Regions from separate parts of the Homo sapiens genome. Here regions 1 and 2 are each linked to region 3. Evidence: fine-mapped expression QTL. A gene starts in region 3. Each other region holds a variant in brackets. All regions are shown on one strand. Distances are between the middles of the regions.

Region 1 (8,189 bases), 61 kb before region 3:
CTAGTCTAGCATCATGAAATTTGTTGATGGAAATATACATTGTCTTTGTTTTATTTAAGGAAAAAGTTGGTAAGCCACCAGTTTCATTAGTATTTATTTATTTAAATAATCCTTGAAAATCAAATGTTTTTAAGTGAGAAAGTGGATAACTAAAGTGTAAATTTTGGTCTCATTTTAATGCTGTTTCTGAGTTATTGTATTAACCATTATTGAGAATAAATTTTTTTATTGAGAATAAATTTTCTAAAATTACATGTTTCACTGAAACCAGTGAAATATTTCACTGAAACAGTGAAATAAAATGAAAACAATTTCCTCCCTTCCCTCAAATCTCTGAGATAACCAGTATGTGTATTTCTTCTTCCTTTATGCTCAAACAACCTGTACACAGAAAGCATTTTTTGCATGTGTTTGGAGGAGCTTTTACCCCCATACAGACATTTGACAGCGTCTTGTCCTTTTCATAATAATCATGAATACTTTTCCAGGTCAGTACGTAAAGATGTAACCCATTCTTTGTAAGGTTCAGAATATTTCTAGAATGGAATGTATGTCCGTATTTTGGGCCATTACCTACTACAGACATTGAAGTTGTTTCTAATGTTCACCTAGAACTCTAATTTTACCTTCTTTTGTTTCTATTGTGCAGATTCCCAACAGTGGGATTAAAGAGTATCTGGCGTATATATTTTGACATTACATTTATTTTTTAAAATCTTCTAAATTTTTTGTTTAATAAAAGCACACATTATAAAAATTCAAAAATTACCAAAAATGTGAAAATTAATTCTCCCCTAACATCCAGTTCTGTAGCCACTCACTTTCCACAGATGCAACAACTGCTATCAGTTTCCTTTTATTCTAACGGGAATATTTCATGTAAATTTCATAAATTCTTTGGACAAAAGTAGGTTATTCATAATATGTGATTTATTACACATTCTCATTATTAGTCCACATTTGGCCTACTTCATTTTTTTTTTTTTTGAGACACACCCAGGCTGGAGTCCAGTGGTGCAATCTTGGCTCACTGCAACCTCCGCCACCCAGGTTAAAAATTCTCCTGCCTCAGCCTCCTGAGTAGCTGGGACTACAGGCATGCGCAGCCACTATGCCCGGCCAATAAGCTATATTTATTCTTATTTGATGTGGATGAAAATTATCAAAATTGGCCAGGCTTGGTGGCTCATGCCTGTAATCCCAGCACTTTGGGAGGCCGAGGCGGGCGGATCACGAGGTCAGGAGATCGAGACCATCCTGGCTAACATGGTGAAACCCCGTCTCTACTAAAAAAAAAATACAAAAATTAGCTGGGCGTGGTGGTGGGTGCCTGTAGTCCCAGCTACTCGGGAGGCTGAGGCAGAAGAATGGCGTGAACCTGGGAGATGGATCTTGCAGTAAGCTGAGATCGCGCCACTGCACTCCAGCGTGGGCAACACAGTGAGACTCTGTCTCAAAAAGAAAAAAAAAAAAGAAAATTGTCAAAACACAACCAATAGATAATGTTAACATGCATTCTAACATGCAATTTATTGGATTTAGCGAATAGAATGTGAGTGGAAGTTACTTTTGGTAGAACTGTTGGGAAAAGGGCTTGTGGAGTGCCTGCATAAACTGGCCATAAAAATATGGGACAATAAGTTGTGGAAAGCCACAAGAGGCCTCTGAGGAGGAAAGCCTCCTAATTGCCATCACGTTCCTATGACCAGAGTGTGACCTGCTCTCTTATCTATAAACACTGTGCTCAAGGAGAAAGACACTCCTTTGAAGCATTGGAATGTGGCCAGATATGCTGGCTTCTAGTTAGGCCCACTCCCCACAGCTGCTCTCTGATAAGTAAAAGAATAAATCAGTAGTTAAGTTTATGCTGCTTCAGCACAAAGAAAATGTACCTAAACTGCCATTGCCCCCCTTTCACTGTTTCACCCCTGAACATCTGCTTCTTAGATCTAAGTGATTGTACTCAATAAATAGTGTGGAGACCAGAGCTTGGCGCCTTTGCAGCTTTTGATTTGCTCTGGCCCCTTGGCTCCCACCTTTATGAACTCTTAACCTGTCTCTTCTCATTCCTTTGTCGCCACCGGACTTCAGGTACCCTACAGGTGGTGTTGAGGCTGGTCCCCAACAGAACTTTACATGTGCTTTCATATTATGACTTGGCTTTTGCCACTGGCCATGAGAAGGACATGCCACATGTAGCCATTTGCTCATCCATGAAAACCTTCCAAGAATAGTGGCAGTGCTTCACTTCCACCTTCTAAATCTCATGCAAATTTCACCAACATGGTGAAACTCCGTCTCTACTAAAAATACAAAAATTATCCAGGTGTGGTGGCAGGCCCCTATAATCCCAGCTACTCAGGAGGCTGACGCAGGAAAATCACTTGAACCCAGAGGGCGGAGGTTGCAGTGAGCCGAGATCGCGCCATTTCACTCCAGCCTGGGTGAAAGGGCGAAACTCTGTCTCAAAAAGTAAGGCCGGGTGTGGTGGCCCATGCCTGTAATCCCAGCACTTTGGGAGGCCGGGGCAGGTGGATCACCTGAGGTCAGGAGTTGGAGACCAGCCTGGCCAACATAGTGAAACCCCTCTCTACTAAAAATACAAAAATTGGCCTGGCGTCGTGGCACGCACCTGTAATCCCAGCTACTCAGGAGGCTGAGGCAGGAGAATCGCTTGAACCCAGGAGGCAGAGGTTGCAGTGAGCCGAGATCACGCCATTGCACTCCAGCCTGGGCAACAGAGCGAGACTTTGTCTCAAAAAAATGAATAAAAATAAAAAAATGACCACTATCAAAAAGACAAACAATAAGAGATCTTGGTGAGGGCAGAGAGAGGGGAACACTTTAGTACACTGCTGGTGGGAATGTAAATTAGTATAACCACTATAGAAAAAATTATAGAGTTTCCTCAAGAAACTAAACATAGATCAACCAAATAATCCAGAAATCTCACTACTGGGTACATATCCAAAAGGAAGGAAATCAGTATATCTAAGAGGTATCTGCACACCCAAGTTTACTGCAGCACTATTAACAACAGCCAAAATATGGAATCAACCTAAGTCTCCATCAATGCATAATGGATTTATACACAATGGAATACTATTCAGCCATAAACAGAATGAAATCCTACCATTTGCAGCAACATGGGTGGAAGTGGAGGTTAATTATGTTAAGGGAAATAAGCGAGGAACAGAAAGACAAACTTGGCATGTTCTCATGCATAAGTGGGAGCTAAAAGAGTTGATCTCATGGAGGTCAGAGTAGAATGATGGTTACCAGAGGTTCGGAAGTGAGTGGCTAGTGGTGAAGAGAGGTTGGTTAATGGATATAAAAATATGCTTAGATAGGGCCGAGTGCGGTGGCTTATGCCTGTAATCCCAGCACTTTGGGAGGCCGAGGTGGGTGGATCACGACGAGGTCAAGAGTCGAGACCATCCTGGCCAACATGGTGAAATCCCATCTCTACCAAAAATACAAAAATAAGCTGGGCGTGGTGGCT[C/T]ACGCCTGTAGTCCCAGCTACTCAGGAGGCTGAAGCAGGAGAATTGCTTAAACCCAGGAAGCAAATGTTGCCGTGAGCCAAGATCGCACCACTGCACTCCAGTCTGACAACAGAGCGAGACTGTCTCAAAAAAATATATATATGGTTAGATAGAAGGAATAAGTTCTAGTGTTTGATAGGATAGTAGGATGACTATAGTTAATAATTTATTGTATATTTCAAAATAGGTAGAATATTTGAAATGTTTCTAACACAAGGAAATGATAAATGTTTGAGGTGGATATCCTAATTACCCTGATTTATTACATATTGTATGCATGTATCAAAATATCACACATATCCCATAAATATGTACAATCATTATGCAGCAATAAAAACATACACTGTAATCCCAGCACTTTGGCAGGCTGAGGCGTGGGATCACTTGAGGTCAGGAGTTCAAGACCAGCCTGGCCAACATGGTGAAACCCCATTTCTACTAAAAATACAAAAATTAGCCGGGTATGGTGGTACATGCCTGTAATCCCAGCTACTTGGGAGGCTGAGGCTGACGAATTGGTTGAACCTGGGAGGCGGAGGCTGCAGTGAGCCGAGATTGTGCCACTGCACATATACAATCAGGGACCTTTAAATGGCACTGTGTTGGAATTAAGAATACCACTGAGAACCAAGGGATAGCAGAATTGGCCCCACTTAGTATTATTCCCAATGATTGCATATGCCCTGATGACTATGTATTGGCTGGTTTGTCAGCCACTGTTAGATGTGATGGAGACGCCCAACAGAGCACACACACTGAGTTCCATCTTCCATAGGTGTGCCACCCCCAGACATGAAGCCTGCCACTCCAATGGGGGGCTGATCATCTGGATGGAGTTTACAAATACGGGCTAACTGTAATGTGTTACTTGTGTTGTGAGTTGACCTGCGGAACAATGATGAGACCATGTGGCAAGGCCTGTGTGTGTGTAGGCTGACTACTACTGGATATGTAATTCAGAAGCCAGTCTAAAGATATCTTTGAAGACACAAATCAGGAGGTACTGCTGCTGATGAAGCAGAGCTAGGGATTTTTATTTATTTAAAAAAATTACAGACAGTACAATTCACTTTTTTGTATGTATACTTCTATTTTTTACACATGCATAGATTTTTTATCTATGACCACAAGCAGGATACAAAACAATTCCAACACCTCAAAGAATTGCCTCGTGCAACCCCTCTGTATTCAGACCCCACCCCACCCCAGACACTCAGCAACATTTGATCTGTTTTCTGTTGTTATATTTTCACCTTTTCCAGCATGTCATATAAATGGAATCATACAGTATGTAACTTTTTGGGACTGGGTTCTTTCCTTTAGCGTAATGCATTTGAGGTTCATCTATGTAGCTGCATGTTTCAGTAGCTCATTATTGTTATCGTTGAGTAGAATTCCATCTTGGGAATGTACCACAGTGTATCCATTTACACACTGAAGAACATTTGCTTGTCTCTAGTTTTTTTTTTAATTATAAATAATACTTACAAACACTCATGTACAGGTTTCTGTGTGCACATAATTTTTCATTTCTCTAGGATAAGTACTTATAAGTGGGATTGCTGGGTCATATTGGATGTGTAACTTTTTGAGACTGGCATATTGTTTTCCAGACCGGCTTTACCATTTTGCCTTTCCTATTAGCAATGTATGAAAGTTCCAGTAACAAATCCACACCTGTACTCCTGAATCTAAAACAAAAGTTAAAAAAGAAAGAGTTCCAGTTGTTCCACATTCTTGTCAGCACTTGGTATTGTCACATATCTAGGGTTTTGAAAAGTCCGATTATAGGCCGGGTGCGGTGGCTCACGCCTGTAATCCCAGCACTTTGGGAGGTCGAGGTGGGCGGATCATGAGGTCAGGAGATCGACACCACCCTGGCTAACACAGTAAAACCCCGTCTCTACTAAAAATACAAAAAATTAGCTGGGCATGGTGGCAGGTGCCTGTAGTCCCAGCTACTCAGGAGGCTGAGGCAGGACAATGGTGTGAACCCAGGAGGCGGAGCTTACAGTGAGCCAAGATCGAGCCACTGCCTCCAGCCTGGGCGACAGAGCGAGACACTGTCTCAAAAAAAAAAAAAAAGCCTGATTATAAACTGATAAATATCTAGAACATCCCAGGTGCATGTTGTAGACTAGTGTTGGAGCCTGTGCTTTTGCTGTTGCACATTACTTGTGAAGCAGGACATGGCAAGCCTGGCTCTATTGCTAGACCAGAAACTGAGTGGAGAAATTCAAGCATTAGCTGACAAGAAATGATCACATTTGAGATGTACTGTGCACTATCTGATACTGGGGACACAGAGGGTGAGGAGATATGCTTGTTCACATACATTATCAGGAAATACACAGCAGTTATAGGAACCATGTTTATAAGATGGAGCTGATTTACAGTCAGACTGCAAAGCTCTAAAATTATCTCCACGATGCCCAGATGTCTGGCTCTGACTCTTGGTTGGGATAAGGCCAGTGAGCTATACAAGGTACTAGTTAAAGTCTGATATTCCCTGGGAGACTCCCAGAGCCAATTTGTTTATGATGGCTTTTTAACTTTTTTAAACTTACATAACCAGTTAGATAGCCTGGCTTGACTATGTAACCAGTGAACAGAGAAGCATAAATACCCATGCAGTGGCTGGGCACGGTGGCTCATGCCTATAATCCCAGCACTTTGGGAAACCGAGGTGGGCGGAGGATTGCCTGAGGTCAGGACTTCGAGACCAGCCTGGCCAACATGGAGAAACCCTGTCTCTACTAAAAACACAAAAACTAGCTGGTTGTGGTGGCACATGCCTGTAATCCCAGATACTTAGGGAGGCTGTGGCAGGAGACTTGCTTGAACCTGGGAGGCGGAGGTTGCAGTGGGCTGAGATTGCACCATTGCACTCCAGCCTGGGTGACAGAGCAAGACTCTGTCTCAAAAAACAAAACAATGACAACAAAAAAACCCATGTAGAGAAGTTCTGCTGTCAGCTCTCCCCAAATCAAGTTTGATACAGGTCTTAGTGCTTCAGTTCAGAGACAGTGTGCGGTCTGTGTGTGAATAAAACCACTGAGGAATGTGCAGCTAGATGATTCTGAGCCCTAATGCTTACCTTCCCTTTCTTTTGCTGAGCCACATCCTTTGCTTCTAAGTAAAAACATTTCCTGGGTATGCTCTGTGGAGTCCTGTTAGTCCTCTGAACTGATGAACTCATTTTGCATATGCCTTATGACCTTGCAGTTAGGTCTACAAAATATGAATTTGTAAAATCACTCCTATTTTGTCGTATATGTTTAGGTCAAGTTGACTTAGATTCTATAAACATGTTTGCTCCTTAGAGTTGCCCAAACTTCATTGAGCAATATATAAGTTAGATGAAAAATACTCATGCACCACATGACATTTTGGTCCATGATGGACTGCATATATAATGGTGGTCTCATAAGATTATAGTACCAGCCAGGCATGGTGGCTCACACCTGTAATCCCAGCACTTTGAGAGGCCGAGGCGGGTGGATCACGAGGTCAGGAGATTGAGACCATCCTGGCCAACATGGTGAAACCCCGTCTCTACTAAAAATACAAAAATTAGCCGGGTTTGGTGGTGTGCACCTGTAGTCCCAGCTACTCATGAGGCTGAGGCAGGAGAATCACTTGAACCCAGGAGGCGGAGGTTGCAATGAGCCGAGATCACACCACTGCACACCAGCCTGGGCGACAGAGTGAGACTCTGTCTCAAAAAAAAAAAAAGATTATAGTACCACATTTTTACTGTACCTTTTCTGTGTTTAGATAGGTTTACATATACAAATAATTACCATTGTGTTACAATTGCCTATAGTATCCAGCACAGTAACATGCAGTACAGATTTGTAGCCTAGGAGCAACAGGCTCTACCATATAGCCTAGGTGTTTAGTAGGCTGTACCATCTCGGTTTGTATCAGCACTCTGTGATGCTTGCACGATCATGACACTGCCTCATGATGCATTTCTCAGAATGTATCCCTATTAAGTGATGCAATGCTGTATTTATCAATTCATAAAGTGAAAATCTCTAAAGTGAGTGAAGTGGCTCACACCTGTAACCCCAGCATTTTAGGAGGCCGAAGAGGGAAGATTGCTTGAGGCCAGGAGTTCAATACCAGCCTGGGCAACACAACGAGACCCCATATGTATAAAAAATAAAAACATTAGCTGAGAGGAATGGCGCCTGCCTGTAGTCCTAGCTACTTGGGAGGCTGAGGCAGGAGAATTGCTTGAGTCCAGGAATTCAAGTCTGCAGTGAGCTATAATGGCACCACTCTACTCCAGCCTAGGTGACAGACTGAGAACCTGTCTCAAAAAAATAAAAAAAATGCAAAGAAAATTTCTGATTTCTTCAAAAGAAATCTTCAAGCAGGATTCTGGAATACAGCCCAATGCTGTTTCATGCCAAAATATAAACCACAGGACCAAATTTTCCTAAGGAGCGGCAGCTTATATGTAAATAGCTTTAGAAAACACAATTTCGGCTGGGTGCGGTGGCTCACACCTGTAATCTCAGCACTTTGGGAGGCTGAGGCGGGTGGATCGCCTGAGGTCAGGCTTTGGAGACCAGCCTGGCCAACATGATGAAACCCCGTCTCTACTAAAAATACAGGTGGGCGCCTGTAATCCCAGCT
Region 2 (8,189 bases), 28 kb after region 3:
CCTTCTTCATATGATTCTGTTAGCATATTCTCCTTTTCACACATAAGCCCTTGCTCAGAACTGTGTAAGTCTAACAGTAGTTATAATTATATTCAGATATTATTTTAATATCTGAAATATATTTTTGGAAAGTACAGCATTAGTTGACTTTTGCTATAAGAAAATGGAAAGGAATATCTGTAAAAGAAGATAAAAGAAAAAATAGAGGAAGGTTTTAGGAGGACGGCGGAGTAAATGTAAATATGCTGTTGAAGAGAAGTAAATAACACATCCCGATTGTATTTCTTCATTCCACATGTCAATCATGGCTCTGCATAAGAGGGAATAAGCAATAGTGGTGGACAATATGTGTAGGTGGAGAAGCAGTTGGAAAATAAATACATATGAATGTTCGCCATATTTATGTATCTTACTGTATTATAAATATACATATGTAATCACTAATACAATGTGAGGGTTGGGAGGCATTGGTAACTGGCATTATTCTTATAGTTACATAATTATTTTGATAATTATTGTTTTCTAGTGACTTATCTTTGTATATATACTTTTATTTTTATTTAGATTCATTCATACAGTGATTTACTTTTCCTCTAATTAATTATCATATACTATGTCCTTAGGTCTTGTTATACATTGGCACATGAAAATTTATTACATTTGTCCTTGTGGAATTTAAGGAATAAGGAAGTAAATGGTGTAAGAGAAAAGTATTGAATACACAACTGAAAAAAATATATATGAGGGTAAGGCACTAGATATGGGATTAGAAACAGAAATGAAGTTATTTAGGGTCAACTAATATGCCCTTTCTGAGGGTATCTTGAGACTTTAACAAAGAAAAGAAGCTGGCATACAAAGAGACCATTGATGTGAAATGAAATGTCCTGTGGATAGCTCTAAATGATAGGAAATTTGTTTTGATCTAGGAGATGAAAAATGATTAGGAGAATGCGTTAAAATGAGGTGGTTTTTTTTGAGACGGACTCTCGCTCTGCTGCCCAGGCTAGAGTGCAGTGGTGCAATCTCAGCTCCCTGCAGCCTCCACCTCCTGGGTTCAAGCAATTCTTGTGCCTCAGCCTCCCAAGTAGCTGGGACTACAGGCGCATGCCATCACGCCCAGCTGTTTGTATTTTAGTAGAGGCAGGGTTTCACTGGTCACAAAGTTCTGAGCTCAGGTAACCCACCCACCTTGCCCTCCCAGAGTGCTAGGATTACAGGCATGAGCCAACACGCCCAGGCAAAATGAGGTCTTAACAAACTGCACCTTGTTATTATCCTCGGTAAAATTTATTTTTGGGGAGGAAAACCACAAAAGTGTTAGTATATATGGATTATCAAATTTTGATCTGCGTTAGCATTACCTCTACAAGATGCTAATGACTAGTTCTACATCTACAGATTTTGATTCTGTTTAACCAATGAGCTTACCAGGTGATGACCAACACACAAATTTCAGATCCACTGACTTAATCTGTTACCTTTATCACAATCCTCATAATCTTTATGTTCTGCTGTTACTCTGTGAGCTCTCTTTATCTTTCATGACAGTATTTTAACCAATTCATGTATATGGTGAATTATTCTTAAATTGTCTCTTCTTTCTATAACTGTTTTATTTTTGTAGTACATGAAAATTATTTTTTCCTTTCTTTCAGATTTGGAGTCCAGGAATGAGACTAAGCATTTATCTGTAGGAAAAGATATTATTCAAAACACTGGTTCTCAGTGGGAGGTAATGGAAAGTAGCAAGTTATGTGGCCTTGAAGGTTCCATTTTCAGAAATGACTGGCAAAGCAAAAGCAAGATTGACTTACAAGGACCTGAAGTGGGATATTTCAGTCAAATGAAAATCATCTCTGAAAATGTGCCCAGTTACAAAACTCATGAATCTCTTACTTTACCTCGGAGAACTCATGACAGTGAGAAGCCCTATGAATACAAGGAATATGAGAAGGTCTTCAGTTGTGACTTAGAGTTTGATGAATATCAGAAAATACATACTGGTGGAAAAAACTATGAATGTAATCAATGTTGGAAAACCTTTGGGATAGATAACTCCAGTATGTTACAACTGAATATTCATACTGGTGTGAAACCTTGTAAATATATGGAATATGGGAATACATGTAGTTTTTATAAAGACTTTAATGTATACCAGAAAATTCATAATGAGAAGTTCTATAAATGTAAGGAATACAGAAGGACCTTTGAAAGAGTTGGAAAAGTTACTCCACTTCAAAGAGTTCATGATGGTGAGAAACACTTTGAATGCTCATTCTGTGGGAAATCCTTTAGAGTGCATGCACAACTTACTCGACATCAGAAAATCCATACTGATGAGAAAACTTACAAATGTATGGAATGTGGCAAGGACTTCAGATTTCATTCACAGCTTACCGAACATCAGAGAATTCATACTGGTGAGAAACCCTACAAATGTATGCACTGTGAGAAGGTTTTTAGAATTAGTTCACAGCTCATTGAACATCAGAGAATTCACACTGGTGAGAAACCTTATGCATGTAAGGAATGTGGGAAGGCTTTTGGAGTATGTAGAGAACTTGCTCGTCATCAGAGAATTCATACTGGTAAGAAACCCTATGAATGCAAAGCATGTGGAAAGGTCTTTAGAAATAGTTCATCCCTGACTAGACATCAGAGGATTCATACTGGTGAAAAACCCTATAAATGTAAAGAATGTGAGAAAGCATTTGGAGTAGGTAGTGAACTTACTCGACATGAAAGAATTCACAGTGGTCAAAAACCTTATGAATGTAAGGAGTGTGGAAAGTTCTTTAGACTTACGTCAGCCCTTATTCAACATCAAAGAATTCATAGTGGTGAGAAACCTTATGAATGTAAGGTATGTGGGAAGGCCTTTAGACATAGTTCAGCCCTTACAGAACATCAGAGAATTCATACTGGAGAAAAACCCTATGAATGCAAGGCATGTGGGAAGGCCTTTAGACATAGTTCATCCTTTACCAAACATCAGCGCATTCATACTGATGATAAACCCTATGAATGTAAGGAGTGTGGGAATTCCTTTAGTGTTGTTGGGCATCTTACTTGCCAACCGAAAATTTACACTGGTGAGAAATCATTTGACTGAAATAAATGTATAAAGTGGTTTTTTATTTCTGATTTTCACAGGAAAATACTGTGGATGGATTTAATAGGTAATCAAGGCAATTCAGTATCTCCCTCTCTTAAAGTCTGTTTTTAGACTTCATGGTCATTCTGTATGTAGACGTAGAATTGCTTAGTCATAGCTGATATATACTTATAGCTTTGTTAGATGTTGCCAAATATTTCTCCTTTTTATGTTAAAAAGTTTTTTTCATGAGTTTCTCATCCTGGCATGTTTTGTTTACAATAGCTTTTGATGTTTGTATTATTGCTCTTTTGACTATTCAGTTTTTTAATTGTAATATTACTTCAATATCTTTTCTGCATTGTAATTCTTTGCTTGTGATATCTATACTTACTTATTTTCCTCCACAGAGTTAGCACTCCTAGTCAGATACAATGTATTTTTACAGTCTTACAGCTCATCATTTTGTGTAATGTTGTTTTGTTTTGTTTTAAATGATAGAAGTGTGATCTCCTTTCCATTTTCATCCAATTGTTGACTTCTCTTTAAATTTCTACTTTATTTTGATACAACATATTCCCCCCAAAAAAACACATACATAGGAACTGGTTATATTCCACCATAACACACACACACACACACACACACTATATACATATAGTGTATATACACATATAGTGTATATAGTGTATGTGTGATGTATACTATACATATCACATATACTATATGTGTGTATATAGTGTGTGATGTATATGTGTGTGATGTATACTATATATGCCCACACATGCACTACATAACACACTATATATATATATATATATACACACACACACACACAATATATGTATATATAGTATATACACTATATACTGGGCACTATATATATATAGTGTGTATGTGTGTTATATTGGAATATAACCAGTTCCTTTAAGCAGTCTTTTTACCTGCAGGCTATACCAACCAGGATCCAAATGAAGAGAACTCTTTTAAATATTTGATAAAACTACTCACCCAGTAAGTCTCTTAAAATTTATCATTCTCTTAAAGTATCACTCTAAAATTTGTCAAACACCTTTAAAAGGGGAGAAAAAATGACCACTGAACTTACATTAAGAGAATTTACAACTATATATTAACATGGCTTCAATTGTTTTTTTAATCTATTATCATTATTTTTCTTTTTATTCCCTCTCAGAGTTGACTTACTAGGTTTGGGCATTTCAACAATCAGCAGACCTTCTTTGGTTTAACTAATCTCATTTAACTCCAAAATCATCTCTCTCTTAGGACTGCTGACTTGGTTATGCAGTCAATGAGATCACGAGCCACTGGTTATTGGATTTTTTTTCTTTTTTTTTAGACAGAGTTTTGCTCTTGTTGCCTAGGCTGGAGTGCAGTGGCGCAGTCTTGGCTCACCTCAACCTCTGCCTCCCAGGTTCA[G/A]GCTATTCTCCTGCTCAGCCTCCTGATTAGCTGGGATTACAGGCATGCGCCACCATGACCGGCTAATTTTATATTTTTAGTAGAGACGGGATATCTCCGTGTTGGTCAGTCTGGTCTCAAACTCCCGACCTCAGGTGATCCACCCGCCTCAGCCTCCCAAAGTGCTGGGATTACAGGCATGAGCCACCGCACCCAGCCTGGTTATTGGATTTATTTATTTATTTTGAGATAGAGCCTTGCTCTGTCACCAGGCCGGAGTGCAGTGGTGTCATCTCAGATCACTGCAACCTCCACCTCCCAGGTTCAAGCGATTCCCCTGCCTCAGCCTGCCAAGTAGCTGGGATTACAGGCATGCGCCACCATGCCCAGCTAATTGTATTTTAGTAGATATGGAGTTTCACCACGTTGGCCAAGACAGTCTCGATTTCCTGACCTTGTGATCCCCCTGCCTCGGCCTCCCAAAGTGCTGGGATTACAGGCATGAGCCACCACGCCTGTCCGGTTATTTGATTTTTATAAGAAAATTTTACTATTATTTTCAGATAAATTTATGTCACTGTCATTCATTACATTTTAATTTTTGAAACTGATGTCTTTCCCAGAATTTATGTACTCTATAACGGTGTGAATGATTACCAGTATTAAGCCATTTTCTCATCTGATATATTGAGCTATGTTTTATGTAAGTATTGCTTATTCAAGTAGTTTTAAAAGATATGTAATTGGTTGTTGTTTCATGTCCTACACAGTAAGAACAAGAGTATGTTAACCTTTTTGTCAGGATATTTGCTATTTCATATCTTTGAAATAGAGTAGTAGCTCTATTTCTAACTAAATTCTATTTATGTAACAACACAGCTAATTTACTCTTGGATCTCATTCTCCCTTTTTATCCTGAGTTACCATCAGTGCTAATGTTCCTCTTTTGGGTATAGTTCTCCAGGAGAACTTGTCCTATATTTCTTTGTGTGTGTTTTTTTCCTTCCAGCTTAAACAAATTAAAACTAAATATCTAAACCTTGTATACAGACATTAAAATTAGTGAGAGAAACAAAATATCCTTGTGTCTTGGCTTTTACTTTTTGAAGTCATTAACAAATAATAAATTAATGAATAAAATGTGTCCTTATTATGTTTTCCTTGTTTGTAGTTACAGCTATATTTTTATCATATTAACATTTTTCACTTAACTTCGTAATGAACTTATGGCATTTCACACTTACTCGAAACCATAATATAATTATTATTGGTGGTATTACTGTTTGGTTTTTACTATTTTTACTCAAAAACATAAAACTTCACCATTCTTTCCATTTTCATTTGCCCCTTTATTCTTTCTGACTTTTCTCTAAGCCTGCATAGGAGCTTTATTCTCATATTCAATAGGATAGGATATTGCAGTCTCATCCTGTTTTCTGCTGTCCTGCACCATTAAATTTTATATGTCCTTGAAGGAATTCAATTTAATGGCAACTAATATATGTATGTTAGGGACAGGTAAAGAGTCTGTGACTGAGATTTCTGGAGTTATATAACCCCTGCGCCACCCCCCACCCCAACTCCAACTTGCCAGAATTCACCCCTTAACCTGCAATGTGATTGTATTTGGACATAGGGCAATGAGGACATAAGAATGTGATTCTAATTTGATACAAATGGTGATCTTATGAGAAGAGGAAGGAGAGACGTCTCTTCCTATGCTCACACACAAAGGAAAGTCCACATGAGGACACAAGGAGAAGCCAAGAGAGCCCTTACCAGGAATTAAACCTGCTAATCCCTATTTTAATTAGAACAGTGAGAAAATAAATATCTGTATTTAAGCCTCACAGTCTATGGCATTTTCTTACAACACCCTAAGCAAACTAAGACAGTTGTTGGTACTGAGAAGTGGGGTGCTGCTATAACAAAAAACTAAAAATGTGCAAGTCCAAGCTTTGGAACTGGGTGGTGGGCAAATAGGCTAGAAGAATGCTGAGGGTAGATGCTAGAAATATGGATGTAAAAATGATTCTGGGGAGGACAAAAAAAAAAAATAGAACCACTGGAGAGAAAGCTTCCATTTTAAAGAATCCTGTCATGAACGGTATTCATGTTAAAGAAACAATCATGAACAAAATGTTGGTAGAAATATGGACATTTAAGGCCATAATGTTTTAGTCTCAGAAATGAGAAACAGGTTATTGTAGCAAGGAACTTGGCTGAATCATGTTCTAGTGTTTTGTGGAAGGTAGCGCTTCCAACCAATGAAAACTGAATAGTAGCGGAGATTTCTAATTATTGAACTTGTGGCTTGGGTTCCCTTTATTGCGCATATAAAACAGGAAAGGAGAGAGATGAATTGAAGGAGGAATTCTTAAGCAATAAGAAACTAAAATGTGAAGATTTGGGAAATTCTTAACCATACTGAGAAAAATGAGGAAATGTGTATTTTGCTGTTTTGGGGTAGAGTGTTGTGTACATGTTAGGTGTTGTTAGTTGATAATCTTCCAGTTTTCTATTTCCTTCTTGATCTTCTGTGTAGATGTTCCATCCATTATTGAATGTGAAGTTTTGAAGACTCCAACTGTTGTAGAACTTTTTTTTTTTGCCTGCAACTTTTTGTAGTGTTTGCTTCACTTCTTTTGGGGCTGTTTGGTGTGTTTGTGTTTATAACTATTATATCTTTTGATGCATTGACCGTTTTATCAATATATAATGTGTCTTTTTTGTCCCTTGTAAAAATTTTTGACTTAAAGTCTATTTTGTTTGATACTAGCATAGCCACCCTACCTCTCTTTTGCTTAACTATTTGCATGGAATCTTTGTCCACTCCTCTCACTTTCAAACTATTTACAGTTTGGGATTTATACTGAGTCTCTTATGGACAGCATATAGTTGGATCATTTTTTTTAATCCATCTGGCAATCTCTGCCTTTTAATTGGAGAGTTTAATCAATATACATTTAAATTAATTGCTTGTAAAGGACTGACTTCTGCCATATTTTAATTTGTTTTGTGTATGTCTCTTTTTGTTTCTTAATTCTCCCAATATTGCCACCTTTTGTGTTTAATGGAATTTTTTCTTTTTTCTTTTTTTTTTTTGAGATGGTGTTCGCTCTTGTTGCCCAGGCTGGAGTGCAATGGCACAACCTCAGCTCGCAGCAACCTCCACCTCCCAGGTTCAAGCAATTCTCCTGCCTCAGCCTCCTGAGTAGCTGGGATTACAGGCATGTGCCACCACGGCCGGCTAATGTTGTATTTTTAGTAGAGACAGGGTTTTTCTGTGTTGGTCAGGCTGGTCTCAAACTCCTGACCTCAAGTGATCCGCCCGCCTCAGCCTCCCAAGGGGCTTACAGGCGGAAGCCACCATGCCTGGCCCGAATTTATTTTACTGTATCATTTTGGTTCCTTTATTTTATTTTCTGTAAATTTTGTATTCATTTTCTCAGTGTTTGCCTTGGAGTTAACACATATTCTACTTTGAATTAATACTATCTTAGCTTCAATATTTACAAAAATTCTGGTCCTATACATCTCTGTCCTTCCCCATTTATATTATTATTGACAGGAATTACATCTTTAAACATTGTGTGCCCATTTACAGAGACTTATAATTACTGTTTTATGCAGTTACCTTTTTTTTTTTTTAGATGGGAGTCTCATCCGGGCT
Region 3 (8,189 bases):
TTAATGTCCAAAGGAAGGCTTAGAATACCATTTATTTTTTCACCAAGACTGAAGGCCTGCTCTATTCCTAGGCTCCTGTCACTACGGACCTGTTTCTCTTGTCCTCTCTCTTCTCCAGTGCTTTCCTGAACATAAAGAGTAGAGTTCAGCTGAGTGTGGTGACTCATGCCTGTAATCCTAGTACTTTGTGAGGCCAAGGCAGGAGGATCACTTGAGCCCAGGAGTTTGAGACAAACTGAGCAACACAGTGAGACCCTGTCTCTACAGAAAATTTAAAAAAAAATAGCTGCATGTGGTTGCATGTGCCTCTAGTCCCAGCTACTCAGGAGGCTGAGTGGGAGGATCACTTGGGCCCAGGAGTTTGAGACTGCGGTGAGCCATGACAATGCCACTGCATTCCAGCCTGGGTGACTCTGTCTCAAAAAAAAAAAAAAGAGAGTACAATCTTCTGTCTTATCTTTCAATCAGATTACTCCCATTCCTCTGGTGACCACTAGAATAGAGCTGTATAAATGGGACAAGGCCCCCTGGGATATGACTAGAAGGGAAACAGTGGTGCAACATGACCCAGAAGGTGAAGGGAGAACAATGTAACATGGGAGGACCTCCCTCTTCCCATATACTGTTAATAATAATGTGATCTACCTATTCTACTTCGATAGAAAGTAGGGCCGGGCACGGTGGTTCACACCTGTAATCCTAGCACTTTGGGAGGTCAAGGAGGGCCGGTTGCTTGAGCTCAGGAGTTCCAGACCAGCCCAGTCAATGTGGCGAAACCTTGTCTCCACCTAAAATACAAAATACAAAAATTAGCCAGGTATAGTAGTGGGTGCCTGTGGTCCCAGCTACTCAGGAGACTGAAATGGGAGAGTCACTTGAGCCTAAGAGGTCGAGGCTGCAGTGAGCCAAGATTGTGCCACTGCCCCCCAGCCTGGGTGACAAAGACCCTGTCTCAAAAAAAAAAAAAAAAGAAAAAAGAAAAAGTAGAATCACTCACTAGTAAACTGAGATATGTGGACATGATGAGGCTTTCCCTTGTATGGGCTCTCCTGAGTACTCACTACATAGACATCAAATCACTATCTGTATAAAAAAGGTTTATGAAAGGAACATATGCTTATTTAATTCAAGGGAATATGTTTCTGTTTATAGGAGTGAAAAGGAGTGCTGAGTGATATAGCCAATTATTATTATTATTATTATTATTATTTTGAGACGGAGTCTTGCTTTGTAGCCCAGGATGGAGTACAATGGCACGATCTTGGCTCACTGCAAACGCCGCTTCCTGGGTTCAAGCAATTCTCCTGCCTCAGCCTCCCGAGTAGCTGGGACTACAGGTGCGGGCCACTACGCCTGGATAATTTTTGTATTTTTAGTAGAGACAGGGTTTCACTATGTTGGCCAGGCTGGTCTTGAACTCCTGACCTCGTGATCCACCTGCCTCAGCCTCCCAAAGTGTTGGGATTACAGGCGTGAGCCACCGCGCCCGGCCAAAATATCCAATTATTAAGTGAACAGTAGTTACAATTAGAAGGGAAACTTGGAGAAGGCAACATCGTTATCTGACTAGAATAAAAGAAAATGGAGAATCCTGTCTCATGGAAGTTTCATGGTAGGCAAATGCTCAGTTATCCTGGGGGAAAGATATTTCAGAAAGGAGAGAAGAAACATTCATTCTCAGCCATAGCTTTTATAATTTGCAGGAAAGGACCCTTGCTCTTTTGGATTCTTTTTTTCAAAAGGTGAACAACAGAGAGAAGGGAGGCAAAAGAAGTCACGTGAGGCCGGGTGCAGTGGCTCACGCCTGTAATCCCAGCACTTTGGGAGGCGGAGGTGGGTGGATCAAGAGGTCAGCAGTTGGAGACCAGCCTGGCCAACATGGTGAAACCCCATCTCTACTAAAAATACAAAAATTAGCCGGGTGTGGTGGCGGGTGCCTGTAATCCCAGCTACTTGGGAGGTTGAGGCAGGATAACTGCTTGAACCCGGGAGGCAGAGGTCGCAGGGAGCCAAGACGACGCCATTGCACTCCCACCTGGGTGACAGAGCGAGACTCCATCTCAAAACAAACAAACAAAACAAAACAAAAAAAAAACACATGTGAAACCTCTTAGAGTTTCTATAATAACGTGGTTAAACCTGCCTGGTTAACTAATAAGCATTTACTATTAAATCCTAATCATTATGCGAGATAGTACCTATTTAGTAATACCGGTTGGGGAAGTAGAGAAGAAAGTAATTACACTGTAGGCTCTAGACAGTTGAAAGAAATTTTTCTTTTAAATGAAGTTTGAAATTTGATTTTTACAGTAAATATTTTAATTAGAAAATGACTATTTTAATTACTACAAAGCTGACTTTGTGATTTTTAGTATTTCAAGTACTTTTACTTGGCTTAAAGTGATTTAGGAGGGCATTAAATCACCCTCAACTTCATCCAGGGGCAAGCAGGAGGCGGGGGGATGGGTGGGAGGGGACCTCAAATCTATATAACTATTCAAAGTGGTAGGGATGAAAGTATTTTACTTCTGTGCTACATATGGAGTCCTCATTTCAACATATTGGATTTAGTTTGTATGATGTTTCCAGGTAATGCAACCCTGTCATCTAGAAATTATAATTTTACCTCCTAGTTTCCAATGCTTGTGATATTTTAGTTATTAGAAACTGTCATAATTCTGCAAGCAAAATGAAATACACCAGACACACAGAGTTCTTCAGTCATTAACATCACTTACATAGTGATCCATTTTCAGTTATCATGGAATGTACACACAAAACCATGATAAATAACAATTAGCACAGACACATTCAGTTTCCTGTGATCTTACCTACTCCACAAAGCCACAATCCTATGGATCCTACATGACATTCACAACCCTGTTGAGCCCATCTTATAATTCCATACAAACATAGCAAAGCAAACTCAGAAACTACTTACTCCAGTTACACAATCTCACACACACAAATCACAACTAATCATTCTAAAAGGCTTATCAGCTTCTTGGAAAGTTAAATGTAAACTTACCAATTACCCAGCAACTTTTCTTCTAAATATTTGCCCAGGAGAAATGGAAACGTGCCAGCTTTATTCGTAATGTATAAAACCTGTAAATATGCCAAATGTTCAACAACAGAAAAATGACTACACAAATTGTGGTATATTTGCACAATGGAGTGCTGTTCAGAAAAAGAAAAATGAACTACACATGAAATCTCACACACATTAGGGTAAACTAAAGGAGAAATATGGAATTCCGGAACTGACAGTTACAGTGACACAAATCAGAACTATGGCTGTCTCTGCTTTGAAACTGACTGGAAAGGACACCAGCAAACTCCGGTGGTGCTGGTGTTGTAAACCAAAAATAAAATCCTAAGCACACCCAGACCATCTTGAATGGACCCCTCCTCTTGGCCAGGGCATTCCTAACCTGAAAAACTAGTAAAGCCATGATGGAAAGGCGGGGGTGGGCGGGTCGGACATGCTTCATTATACCCTCCTCCATTTTGGAATTACTGATAGAAAAGACCCCAAGTCTGAAAAGAAACATTTACAATCTATTCTCTGTGAAGCGTGCTACCTGGAGACATTCCTAAGTCTTACGTCAATAACTCTTTCAACCCATTGCCAATCAAATAATCTTTGAATCTACCTATGACCTGGAAGGCCAGCCACCTTCCAGCTGTCCCGCCTTTCCGGAGGGAATCAATGTACATTTTACATGTATTTGATTGGTGTCTCATGTTTCCCTAAAAGGTATAAAACCACATATATCCCGTCCACCCTGGGCACAGGTTCTCAAGATCTCCTGAGGGCTGGGCCACCGGCCATTGGTCACTCATATTTAGCTCAGAATAAGTCTCTTCAAATACTTTAGAGTCTGAGTCTTTTCGTCAACAGTGTAAAACACGCCCTAAGGCAGACACACACACACTGAACCGCCGCTACCTGCCAGATTCCATCTGGGGCCTTTCTCATGGTGCAAAACGGACAAAAACTCCAAGTCACCCTCAGGTTTACGACCACGGGTCACATCCTGAGGCCCCCACACTTAGAAGCCAGAGTGGAGCAAAACCTCGCCCGACTCAGGCTCCGAGTTCTCCCCTCGACCCTCCCCAGCCTAAAGGCTGTACCCGCTTCAGGCCTTCCCAGCCCGGCCCTCCAGTTCCTTCTTCGGCCTCCCTCAGCCTGGGGTCCGGGTTTCCTCCTCGGCTGAGCAGCCGGGTCCGCGACTCCCTTCACCCTCCCCGGCCCGGGCTTCCGGTTCTTTCCAGAGGTGAGGCAGGGGCCACCTAGAATTCCGCGGCCCCCCACCTCCCCCAAGACCACCCTCGCCCCAGCTTCCTGTTCCCCATTCTGTCCTCCCAACCTGGGTTCCCGATTACTGCCTCGACTTCACCTTGCCGTCAGGGACCACCAGCCGCCTCTTCCGCGCCTAGGGGACGCGCAGCGGCAGCCTCTGCTGATGGCAAGGGTCTGCGCACCCGGAAACTCCAGGGTCTGGGGCGTGGTGCGGCCCCTGCGGCCAGCGGGCTCCGCTTGAGCTTCAGGGCTCTTTCGTTGTTGGACTACGTTTCCCACAGGCCTCAGGGCCGCGGATGAACTTCGACCTTTGCTTCCTTTTCCGGTGTTGTGGTTATTGAGTTAAGCCTGGCGAGTCGAGGTGACCCGGGCCGGGCTGCGGGAGGAGCTCGCGGTGAGGTGGCCCCGCGCTGCCGGGCGAGGTCGGTCCACGTGGAGCCGGGAGCCTGAGGCCTCTGTACGCGGGAGCTGCGGACGATGGTGGTTAGTGCTATTGTTTACGACGTCATTGTGGTGTGTGTGTGTGAGAGACGGAGACCCTAGTGTGTGCCGTGGGTGCTGTTTGATCGGACTCAGGACGGTGAGTAGGGGCGGGGTCTATCGTGTGACCCTGGTCTACGGTGACGTGATCGTGTGACAGCACTGTTGTGACCAACTATAAGTGTGAACGGGGTAGAAGTGTTTTTTTGTTTTTTTTTGTTTGTTTGTTTGTTCGTTTTTTTCCGTGAGCCTGTAGGAGTTTGTTTTGGGTAAAGCGTCATTTTTCCGACTCTGTGATGTCTGTGATGGAATCTCTTCGTGAGGTCTTATACACACACACACACGCATATAGATAGATTACATAGATGATATATAGAAGATAGATAAATGATAGATAATAGATAGATAGATAGATAGATAGATAAGATAGATAAATGAAGTTTCCTGGGAAGACGTGAAGGGGAGGGCATAGGTGTAGTATTCATTCCTGGGATAACTCCCCTTGCATGAGTTTGGAGGCCATTTATACATTAAAGAACTACAGTATTTCCTGAGCTGTGTTCCCTAGAAACTGCTAGGCATTGGTCGTACCTTTTTCTCGGATGTGGGGAGGAGTCGACAGTATTCTAGTTTCCCTCTTCGATCTGGGTGTGTTTGTTGTGTGTGATGGGCTTTTCTGGTGGTGAACACTGTGTTCTTATTTAACCAGTCCAGGATGTCATGAGTCCTTTCTCCCTCTTGGTTATGTAGTTCTGCAAGTGAAGGCCCCCTGAAGTGGAAGACAGCATTGGTACTAATGGCCAACTCAAGGTTAGTTTTTTTTTTTGTTCATTTACCTGGTCCCTTGGTTTTCTCTTCCCAATTAACAACAGGACCGTAGAGATGGGTCCCCTTGTCCTCCATTGCCTTTCCAAATGCCCATTTCCCTTTCATTGAATATTCACATATGCATTAGGTAAATCATTCAATTCTCCCATGTGCTTCTTTTTTTCCAAAGGATTTTTATGGTATAGAAATACAACTCCTGGAGGAGAAGTTAAAACTTTTTTTTAGAATGTAATTTGTTAAGGAGGAGACGAGTGATTAAGTAGAATGGCACACTAGATACCTTTGATCTTATTTACAGACTTGATTTGCAAACAAAGCAAGATAGGAGATGGTAGGTATTAATCAGTAAGTGACAAAGTTGGCTTTGGAGACATTTAGGAGTGGGAATATGATAGGAGTTTTATGCAGAGAGGCTATGTCAACAAGGGCAGGGAGTTTTTCCAGAACATTCATGAGGGGATTTAAGTGGTGACAACCAAATCTTCTTTGAGATTTGGCAGTGTGACATTGGTGTAGATTGTGAGAGGCAGCCTGATACAGTGGTGTCTGAGTCTAAAGCAGCACAGTCTAATGCAAATATAATATAAAGCCACTTAGGTAATTTAAAAATTTCCATTAGACACTTTTTTTTTTTTTTTTGAGACAGAGTTTCACTGTTATTGCCCAGGCTGGAGCGCAATGGTGCGATCTCAGTTCACTGCAACCTCTGCCTCCCAGGTTCAAGTGAGTCTCCTGCCTCAGCCTCCCAAGTAGCTGGGATTACAGGCGCCCGCCACCATGCCCGGCTAATTTTTGAATTTTTAGTAGAGAAGGGGTTTCATCATGTTGGCTGGGCTGGTATCGAACTCCTGACCTCAGGTGATCCACCCACCTCATCCTCCCAAAGTGCTGGGATTACAGGCGTGAGCCACTGCGCCCGGCTTTAAACACATTTTAAAAAGAAAAAGAAACAGCTGAAGTTAATTTTGGTAATGTATTTTATTTAAACCAATATATCCAAAATATTATTTCAACATGTAATGATATGAATACACTGAAATACTTTACACTCATATCTTTATACCAAGTTTTCAAAATCTGGTATATGTTTTATTGTTATTGCATGTCTCAATTTGGATGCTAAATTTTCAGTGTTTAGGGTGAATTATAGTCCTACCAAAACAATAAAGTTGTGTTTAATAGAAAAACATTTATATTGCTTTTGTATTTAAATGTAAGTTAATTAAAATTAAAGGTAATCCTGTGTTAATTAGCTTAGGAAAAGTGAAAAAAATTTAAAATTCAGTTATATGTTCACACTGCATTTCAAAGGGGTTAATAGTTACTCATTTTTCCGCTTTACAGTTTCTTGTTGTAGAATGTAAACAATAATTATATCAGTGCTTTAGGGTCTTTATGAGGCCTGGATACATTAATATGGACATAAACCTAGAGAATTTAATAAAGGCCTGGCACTTTAAGTCCTTATCTGCAAGGGAAGAAAAAAAGCTGGTTTGTGAAGATTCTTAGTATTCCCCATACATTTTCTGTAAATCAAGAGCAATGAAAATATAAAGTTAATTTTGATGGGCACTTGAAATGAATTTTTTAAAAGCCAGATTTGCAAATGTTCTATTAAGGCAATTTGACTGTCTTAGGTTCAATGATTTGCGAGAAGGACTCACAGAACTCAGAAAAGCTGTTATGCTCATAGTTATTCTTCATTACAATGAAAAGGTACACATTAAAATCAGCAAAGGGAAAAGTTGCATAGGGCAAATACCGGGAGAAACCAGGTGCAAGCTTCCAGTGCAGTTGCACAGGCAGCACCTAATTCTCCCAGCAACAATGTGCGAATACAAACATGAAGCGTGGCCAACCAGGGAAGCTCTCCTAAGCCATGGTTTCCAGGGTTTTTTGTTTTGCTTTGTTTTCTTTTTTCTTTTTTCTTTTCTTTTTTTTTTTTTTTTTTTTTGAGATAGGGTCTTGCTCTCTCACCCAGGCTGAAATGCAGTGGTGGGGTCACAGCTCAATGCAGCCTCTACTTCCCAGCCTCAAGGGATCCTCCCACCTCAGTCTCCCAAGTAGCTAGGACTACAGGCACACACCACAACACCCGGCTAATTTTTGTATTATTTGTATAGATGGGGTTTTGCCATGTTGCCCAAGCTGATCTTGAACTCCTGGGCTTAAGTGATCCACCTGCCTCTGCCTCCCAAAGTGTTGGAATTACAGGTGTGAGCTACTGCCCTGGCCCATGTCCGGGGTTTTTATTGACGATCAGTCATGTGGGCATGAAGGTTCTGTGCACTGACCTTACCTACTTAGTCAAGCCTACCCAGAAGTCAGATGGATACAGGTATTTACCATAAACCACATTGTTAACAAAAGCCATCTGGCATGGCTAAGACCTCAGATATACATAGACTCTGTTAATCAGGCAGGATACTCTAACTGCTCAGAGATTATCTCCCAGGAGCTGGTCAAGGACAATTTCTTCTTTGGAATGTGCAGGGTTTGAGCACTCTGAGCCAATTCTTCATTTTTTTCTTTTTCTTTTTGTTTTGCAACAAGAGTCTTGCCCTGTCACCCAGGC

Evidence for each region. PIP is the estimated chance that this variant, and not a neighbour inherited with it, causes the effect.
Region 1: its variant is the best candidate, but not a certain one, in a credible set for the expression of ZNF529-AS1 in blood mononuclear cells (TOPMed, PIP 0.62).
Region 2: its variant is the best candidate, but not a certain one, in a credible set for the expression of ZNF529-AS1 in subcutaneous fat (GTEx, PIP 0.65).

The regions. Positions count from the first base shown.
Region 1 is chr19:36,630,481-36,638,669 of GRCh38, reverse strand. ZNF382 (zinc finger protein 382) reads right to left here. Exons shown (of 5, transcript NM_032825.5): 5 at 4,556-8,189. It overlaps ZNF461 (zinc finger protein 461), which reads left to right. Exons shown (of 6, transcript NM_153257.5): 6 at 1-2,052. The coding sequence ends at 17. Among named protein-coding and RNA genes, the nearest start is that of ZNF382, 29 kb to the right of the region's middle. The variant C/T (reference allele first, on the strand shown) is at 3,503.
Region 2 is chr19:36,541,792-36,549,980 of GRCh38, reverse strand. It overlaps ZNF529 (zinc finger protein 529), which reads left to right. Exons shown (of 5, transcript NM_020951.5): 5 at 1,659-6,368. The coding sequence ends at 3,115. Among named protein-coding and RNA genes, the nearest start is that of ZNF260, 18 kb to the right of the region's middle. The variant G/A (reference allele first, on the strand shown) is at 4,538.
Region 3 is chr19:36,569,740-36,577,928 of GRCh38, reverse strand. ZNF529-AS1 (ZNF529 antisense RNA 1) reads right to left here and starts at 4,580. Exons shown (of 5, transcript NR_173348.1): 1 at 4,374-4,580; 2 at 3,029-3,108; 3 at 692-788. It overlaps ZNF529 (zinc finger protein 529), which reads left to right and starts at 4,637. Exons shown (of 5, transcript NM_020951.5): 1 at 4,637-4,789; 2 at 5,537-5,596. The coding sequence starts at 5,583. RefSeq lists an enhancer at 4,491-4,580.